2 separate regions of the Homo sapiens genome follow, and region 1 is linked to region 2. Evidence: fine-mapped expression QTL. A gene starts in region 2. The other region holds a variant in brackets. All regions are shown on one strand. Distances are from middle to middle.

Evidence for each region. PIP is the estimated chance that this variant, and not a neighbour inherited with it, causes the effect.
Region 1: its variant is the best candidate, but not a certain one, in a credible set for the expression of ADAMTS3 in sun-exposed skin (GTEx, PIP 0.71).

The regions. Positions count from the first base shown.
Region 1 is chr4:72,591,976-72,596,361 of GRCh38, forward strand. No RefSeq gene overlaps it. Among named protein-coding and RNA genes, the nearest start is that of ADAMTS3, 25 kb to the left of the region's middle. The variant C/T (reference allele first, on the strand shown) is at 2,592.
Region 2 is chr4:72,567,365-72,571,750 of GRCh38, forward strand. It overlaps ADAMTS3 (ADAM metallopeptidase with thrombospondin type 1 motif 3), which reads right to left and starts at 1,857. Exons shown (of 22, transcript NM_014243.3): 1 at 1,330-1,857; 2 at 10-37. The coding sequence starts at 1,398.

The DNA of each region.
Region 1 (4,386 bases), 25 kb after region 2:
CACTTCAGAGTTCTCTTTTCTCATGGTAGCCTGGCAACCGAATTGCGTCTCTTTGATGGAGGGCGTTCCTACTAGAAAACAGCTTTATGAAAAGTGTCAGGGTCATCTTTAGAAACCCAAAGAAAACAAAACAAAACCCCCCAAAAAAAGCCTACCACCAAGAAGGCAAAGAAAAAAAAATCTGCACAACTCAATTATTCAGCTGCACACAACTGCGCCTGTCAGGTCTTGGTAAAAACACTCACTTGAATTTAATTAAGTTTGTCCATGTAGCCTGTGAACTGCTCGCCAGACCTGCTGGAAGGGGATGAAAAGCCTGACGGCAGGCCCCGTGAGGCCATTGTTGATAAGGAAGGGCACAACATTCTCAAGTTAGGTAAATTCCCATCCCCTTGCACACAAAATGCACTGGGGTAATATCCTTTTGAAGGGTGTGTCAGAAAGTTGGGTTGCCTGAGAGCCAAGACAGAGGAGAACTTTTCCCACCAATAACATATCCACTTCTTCTGGAGGCAGTGTGCTGAATGGTAAAGTGCCTGGTCTTTGGAAAGCTAATGGCCTTTGGAACTTTGAAGTCAAACAATTAGATTGAAATGCCTGTTCTGCCACTTACTCGTTCTGTTATTCTGGGAAGGTTAAGGAACCTCGCCGAGTCTCAGTTTCCTTATTTGTAAGCTAGAAAGTCAAAACTACCTGAAAGTTTATCAGGATTCAGTGAGGTCCTATTGGTAAAATGAGATACTGTTGGCTCTCAATGACCCTTCTCCTTATTTCTCTACTTAAATCCTCTAATGTGTATTCCCATTTATTATAAAATAATTTCCAAACTTGGAAACATGATAGAGTACTTTCAAAATCAAACCTTGCCAGTACATGCCTGTTGCCTCCAAATGCCTGTCAGAACTATCTGTCTTCTCCCTTGTGCCTTTTTATGCTGCAGTACCTGCCATACACTTTCAATCTCTTGACTAAAATATCTTTTCCAGTCATTCTTCAAGACCCTATTCAAGTATCCCCAAGTCTTGCCTTAGCTCTCCAAGGCAGAATTAACCACTGTGGGCCTTAGGTTCCCAGAGCACTTTGTACTTTTCTCAATTAAAAAATTTTACCTTCTAGATTGACTTGCTTTTAGTTTTTCCTCCAACAAACCATAATCTCCAACAAACCTATAAAGGATTCGTTGGCAACCATTTACTTTTATATTATTCAAATATTTAACAAAGTGTTCAATAAATATTTAACTGATGAATAGGTAATTTCCAGAGCATCTTTAATTAAGCCACTTTAAAATTTACATTTAAAATGTTCTGTAAACAGATGCTTATTGTTTTTTGGCATCACCCTAAATTAGCACAGGATACTCATATAAAAATCCATAAATCTGAAATGTAAAATATGATAAGGAGTATTGAAATAAGAATAAAAGAGTTGGAAAGTAAACAAATACTAATTTGTAATCTATACACAGCTTGGTCAGAGTATGCTGAAAACTCCTTTCTAATAAAATAACAAACCCAGTGCAGATATGGTAATTACTAGAAATTTTACCTATACAAATATTTGCAAGCAGTTTCATAAAAATCAAATTATTATTTTGATTTTAGTTTTATTTTGATTAATTTGAGTAAAATTATTTTGATTTGTTTTAAAAATAATTTTTAATTATTTTGATTAATTTGATTTTAGTTTAGTAAGTTCCTTTCTTTCTGAAAAGTTTATTCTATTGAAAAACGACAGTGAGGGCAGCCAAGATGGCCGAATAGGAACAGCTCCAGTCTACAGCTCCCAGCGTGAGTGACGCAGAAGACGGGTGATTTCTGCATTTCCATCTGAGGTACCGGCTTATTCACACTAGGGAGTGCCAGACAGTGGGCTCAGGACAGTGGGTGCAGCGCACCGTGCACGAGCTGAAGCAGGACAAGGCATTGCCTCACTCGGGAAGCGCAAGGGGTCAGGGAGTTCCCTTTCCTAGTCAAAGAAAGGGGTGACAGACAGCACCTGGAAAATCAGGTCACTCCCACCCGAATACTGCGCTTATCTGATGGGCTTAAAAAACGGCACACCAGGAGATTATATCCCACACATGGCTTGGAGGGTCCTACGCACACGGTGTCTCGCTGATTGCTAGCACAGCAGTCTGAGATCAAACTGCAAGGCGGCAGCGAGGCTGGGGGAGGGGCGCCCGCCATTGCCCAGGCTTGCTTAGGTAAACAAAGCAGCTGGGAAGCTCCAACTGGGTGGAGCCCACCACAGCTCAAGGAGGCCTGCCTGCCTGTGTAGGCTCCACCTCTGGGGGCAGGGCACAGACAAACAAAAAGACAGCAGTAATTTCTGCAGACTTAAATGTCCCTGTCTGACATCTTTGAAGAGAGCAGTGGTTCTCCTAGCACACAGCTGGAGATCTGAGAACGGGCAGACTGCCTCCTCAAGCGGGTCCCTGACCCCTGATCCCTGAGCAGCCTAACTGGGAGGCACCCCCCAGTAGGGGCAGACTGACACCTCACAAGGCCGGGTACTCCTCTGAGACAAAACTTCCAGAGGAACAATCAGACATCAGCATTCGCGGTTCATGAAAATCCGCTGTTCTGCAG[C/T]GACCGCTGCTGATACCCAGGCAAACAGGGTCTGAAGTGGACCTCTAGCAAACTCCAACAGACCTGCAGCTGAGGGTCCTGTCTGTTAGAAGGAAAACTAACAAACAGAAAGGACATCCACACCAAAAACCCATCTGTACATCACCATCATCAAAGACCAAAACTAGATAAAACCACAAAAATGGGGAAAAAACAGAGCAGAAAAACTGGAAACTCTAAAAAGCAGAGCGCCTCTCCTCCTCCAAAGGAATGCAGCTCCTCACCAGCAACGGAACAAAGCTGGATGGAGAATGACTTTGACGAGTTGAGAGAAGAAGGCTTCAGATGATCAAACTACTCTGAGCTATAGGAGGAAACTCAAACCAAAGGCAAAGAAGTTGAAAACTTTGAAAAAAGTTTAGACGAATGTATAACTAGAATAACCAATACAGAGAAGTGCTTAAAGGAGCTGATGGAGCTGAAAGCCAAGGCTCGAGATCTATGGGAAGAATGCAGAAGCCTCAGGAGCCGATGTGATCAACTGGAAGAAAGGGTATCAGTGATGGAAGATGGAATGAATGAAATGAAGCGAGAAGGGAAGTTGAGAGAAAAAAAGAATAAAAAGAAACAAACAAAGTCTCCAAGAAATATGGGACTATGTGAAAAGACCAAATCTACGTCTGATTGGTGTATCTGAAAGTGATGGGGAGAATGGAACCAAGTTGGAAAACACTGCAGGATATTATCCAGGAGAACTTCCCCAATCTAGCAAGGCAGGTCAACATTCAGATTCAGGAAATACAGAGAACGCCACAAAGATACTCCTCGAGAAGAGCAACTCCAAGACACATAATTGTCAGATTCACCAAAGTTGAAATGAAGGAAAAAATTTCAAGGGCAGGCAGAGAGAAAGGTCAGGTTACCCACAAAGGGAAGCCCATCAGACTAACAGTGGATCTCTCGGCAGAAACTCTACAAGCCAGAAGAGAGTGGGGGCCAATATTCAACATACTTAAAGAAAGGAATTTTCAACCCAGAATTTCATATCCAGCCAAACTAAGCTTCATAAGTGAAGGAGAAATAAAATACTTTACAGACAAGCAAATGCTGAGAGATTTTGTCACCACCAGGCCTGCCCTAAAAGAGCTCCTGAAGGAAGCACTAAACATGGAAAGGAACAACTGGTACCAGCCGCTGCAAAATCATGCCAAAATGTAACGACTATCGAGACTAGGAAGAAACTGCATCAACTAACGAGCAAAATAACCAGCTAACATCATAATGACAGGATCAAATTCACACATAACAATATTAACTTTAAATGTAAATGGACTAAATGCCCCAATTAAAAGACACAGACTGGCAAATTAGATAAAGAGTCAAGACCCATCAGTGTGCTGTATTCAGGAAACCCATCTCACGTGCAGAGACACACATAGGCTCAAAATAAAAGGATGGAGGAAGATCTACCAAGCAAATGGAAAACAAAAAAAGGAAGGGGTTGCAATCCTAGTCTGTGATAAAACAGGCTTTAAACCAACAAAGATCAAAAGAGACAAAGAAGGCCATTACATAATGGTAAAGGGATCAATTCAACAAGAAGAGCTAACTATCCTAAATATATATGCACCCAATACAGGAGCACCCAGATTCATAAAGCAAGTCCGAGTGACCTACAAAGAGACCTAGGCTCCCACACAATAATAATGGGAGACTTTAACACCCCACTGTCAACATTAGACAGATCAATGAGACAGAAAGTTAACAAGGATACCCAGAAATTGAACTCAGCTCTGCACCAAGTGGACCTAATACA
Region 2 (4,386 bases):
AAAGCTTACCTATTTGCACCATTTCTTCATTACCAGCCTGGAAAGGAGGGGGAAAGCAAGAAAAAGAAAGTTACTGGGTTTCATCTTATCACCTTGTGAGTTTTATTTCTACCATTAATGGTTTCCAAGAGCTAACTAATCAGGAGATGCTAGAGACTGGGATTGGTGCCTAAAGCCTGCACCTTGGTTTGTAGAAGGTTCCATGAGCCAATTCCATAACAATTTGGGGAAGGGAGTTGTTTGCCCCTTTTCATTTTAATTTAACACTTATGAAGCCAGCAAAAATACATACAGACTCTCAATGCTCTCTTCTGAAATGTCGTACTGGGTCTGGATTAGAAAAGAAAGTATGAATTTAACAGGCCAAAATACACCTAACAGGGGGCCTGATTAATCAGATTTAAGGTCAGGAATCAACTAGACAATTCTCTACTTTTTACCCTATGGTCGTTCAGACCAGGCCGACCGGAGAAGCTACAAAAACTAACAGAGAAATTCTGTACCCAAAGTCCCATCGGCCCAGTGCTGATATGATTTACTACAAACAGCTCCCCTGGCGGAGCCTTCTCAAGGACTCTTCTGAGAGCATCGGGCTTCACCTTGAGCCTCCAAAGGGTTGGGGGCAGGGCCGAAAAGAAACAGAGCTGCACTCAACTTAGCTTTAAAAAGAGGAGGAGTTGTGCAGAGGGGGAGGGGAGAAGGCGGCCGGCGCCTGCAGCCTCTGCCCAGGAAAACGGAGGGCAGGAAACGTCTCCAGCCCCCCTCCCCAACTGTCAAATCCTAGCCCGGCCGTGGTACTCCCAGGACACGTGTCTACTGGATCTCTCCCTGTCCGGCCCAAGGACTTCCTGAAACCCCCGCCTCCGGCTGCCCGAAAAAACCGTGAGTCAGTTCGGAGGAGAGAAAGCTCCAGGAACCCGACTCTGGCGGCAGCAGCCAGAGCGCTGGGATCCCGGACCCAGCGTCCAGAACTTCATTCAAGCGCCCAGACCGCCCTCCAGAAAGGGGAAGCCCAGATGGCCCGGCGAGGATGGGAACTGGCTGCGGTTTGTCACTAGGAATTGTTACGAATGTCGCAGACTGGTGAAGCCCTAGGTGTGACAAGACTGGGCTCCCGGAGTGGGAGTCGTAACCTCCCGTGCAACTCAACCCTCTACCCCCAAAAGCCCGCACGCTGCGCCCAGCCCTCAAAACACCGTTTCTGAACGCAAAAGATAACAGGGAAGGGTGGGAGGAGAAGGAGGAAAGAGAGGAGGGTAGAGAGGGGAGGAACTTTTCGGGAAAAGGTTGGGTTTGAGTTTTTTTTTATTGTTATTATTTTCCACTTACTTGTCCATCAGCTGAAGTCCTAACCTCTACCAGAGCGGCTGCTATCAACCAAAGTGACAGGAGAACCATCACGAGTCGAGTTCACTTTCCAACTACTGGGCAAAGCAAATGCCCAGAGCAAACCCACCCCCCCCGCCCAAAATAAGTTTCTTTAAGAAAAAAAGGAAAAGGGAAAAAATGCGAAATAGAAAAAAATGATCTTCTGTGCTTTGCTTCAATGAAAATGAAATTTGAGCTCTGAGACTGGCCCCCTCTGCTCTGCAGTTTTTTCCACTTCACCTTCTCACCCCGTCCTCCCAACACAGAGTGTGCAGGAGCGAGAAGGTGCTGTAAGCGGGCACAGGCTAAGCCTGGGAGAGGGGGAAGGGACGAGGGGCTTTCCAACTATCTCTGCCCAAAGCAGCTTTTTCGAGGCTTTTCGAGCACCATTGGTCCCTAAGGTTAGCGCGGAGAATGCTTGGGTTCCCCGGAGCACAGCAGGGGGAAGTATTAGCGAGAGAGACGAGCGAGCGGGAGCGGGAGAAAGAGGCAGGGAGAGGGCGACTCCGCCGCACACGCAGAGGTGGGGGCGGGAGGAGCGAAGGGGAGGAGGAGAAGGCAGGCGGAGGAGGTGGGAGGAGTGGGCCGCTCGCCGGCTCCTGTTGCTCGCAGCGCGGCAGTCTGCTGGCTGCTGGCGACCCGCGGGGCGCTAATAAGGCGTCCGGAGCTCCCCGGACTGCCCCTCCCGCCGTGGCGCCCACGTCATGCGGGGCCCGAACCCGCGCCCCCCGCACCGTGTCAGGATTGGAGACCGCTCGGGGGCTGGTGTGGCCCGGGCTCGACCTCCCACCCTGGAGCCTCTCCTTCTCCGCCTAGGGCGAGAGGAGGGGAGGGTCCAGGGGCGCCACCGGTCCCGACTGGCGGGACGCGCGTTGAGTTAATTATAGGAAGGGGGAGGGTCCGAGGGCTGGTCCTGGGCTGTAGGAAATTCACCTCCTCCAACCTCCACTGTTCTCCCAGCCAGAGAATTCTCCCCGAAGAGAAGCCCTGGAACCTCCAGATCTTAACCACGCGGTGATCTCCCTTCCAGGCACCAGTCACCTCCCACGTTTTGGCAGGGGGTGTCCTTCTTTGTAAGCTCTTGTTTAGGCTTTATTCGTTTATATTAGTTTTAAAAGATACCACGTCCTTTCCTTGACTCACCCGGATGCTTCCGTTTATCACTAGAGTACACAGGCCTCAGCGACTCTTCCTCACACCCAGATTAAGTTATCAAATGATTTCTGCCCGCTGTGGCCTGGCGCTTCCTGAGGGGAAATGACACCAACCTGAGAGTTTGCTGGAATCCTAGCCCAGGCCCACCTCCCAGGCGTAGACACCTGTGGGTGCTTTCCAGAAAGCAGACAGGAGGAAAAGGAAATAGCTCCAACCTCCACTGACCGGTCCACGAGCCAGGAGTGAGTAGACACAAATTTAGATACGAACTTCAAGACTTCAACTGGACAGTCTTGAAGAGGCCTGCCCACAATAAAACGAGCTAGTGTTTATCTTGTTATGAGATGCAAGATAAGTCATAGTTCTTGTTCTTTTTTAAAAGCAATGTGAGTTTGGAGGGTTTCCTATAACTTCGATTCATTGTTTATTCCTGGAGAGGTAACGTGATGGTTGTGCCTTTAACTTAAGCATGGAAAGATTTGGTGTTCACTGATGTTTTATCTGCTAAGTCTTCTCAAAATCATATATCGAGGACATTTACATATACAAATGAGAAACTAGGTAACTAAATGGCCCCACCTAGTAAAACAGGATATTAGGTCAATTAGTTATTAATTGGAATTAGAATTAGACCCCAGCACTGAAGTATCTCTAAATTACTTTTTTCCTTCAATTAAAGCCTGTAGCATTTTTGTAACTTGTCATTAACTAGCTATCCAGGAGTGATTTGCTACATTTTACACCGAGTTTGTCTATTCATTAAAAAGAAGTAACCCTAAGCATTCCATAAATGAAAAATCTGTCAATTTACACTGACAAGTAAAAGAACACTAGAGATACACATTAGGAGATCTAGGTTCTAGACCCAGCTAACAGCTGTCTTACCTTGACAAGTCAGAATAAACCTCTATTTTGGTTTCTCCTCTATGAGATATTTGAGATCTAAAATCATCTGATTTTAGGTAATAACAAATAATGTATTTAACCATGTTATTACAGTAGGCCCTTTTGTGTTAATTTTACAACATTCAGACATTAGTTATCACCTAACTCCCGGCATAGCAAGCAATTCATGTGACTTTCAGGAAAGCAGCGGCTTCAGACATTTTTGGCCATCACCACAGAGAGAAATGCATATTGCATAGCGACCCAGTAAAAATTTCATGATTCAGTACTTACCTGTACTGCATGCAACAACCCTGATATTTTTCTTGCCATTCTTTCCCTGCAACCCCAATTGCAGATGAGCACTCAATTGATTTCACAACCCAGCAAGTCATGACTCTCACTTTGACAAAGATCAGTTTAAGAGCATGCAATAGGGTTTTTTTTTAATTCTAAATGAGTTCTAATTAATAGGGTTCTCCTAATATATTCTAAGGCAGAGTTTCCCAAAGTATTCCCTGGAATATTAAATGTTTTACCAGGAAAAGGAAAATTCTCAGACAGCCAACTGAGCTCATGAAATACTTAGATAAATGAAACAAAATGGCTCTCCTTATTTCAGACTTCAGGGTACCTATTTAAACAAACACATTTGTAGTCCCAGCTACTCCAGAGGCTGAGGCAGAAGAATCGCTTGACCCCAGGAGGCGGAGGTTGCAGTGAGACGAGATTGTGTCACTGTACTCCAGCCTGGGCGATAAAGCGAGACTCCGTCTGAAAAAAAAAAAAAAAAAAAAATTGTGAGTCTTCAAGGGGGAGATGTAGTGCAATTTGGTCTCCTTACTTACATGACCATAGAATCCTTTTTTCTCATGCTTTATCCTCTGTGGAACACACATGGGTAAATGACATTACAAAGCCCAACTATTAAAGCAAAATGAACTTCAAGTTAGATAGGTTGGATTCTCATGAGGATTC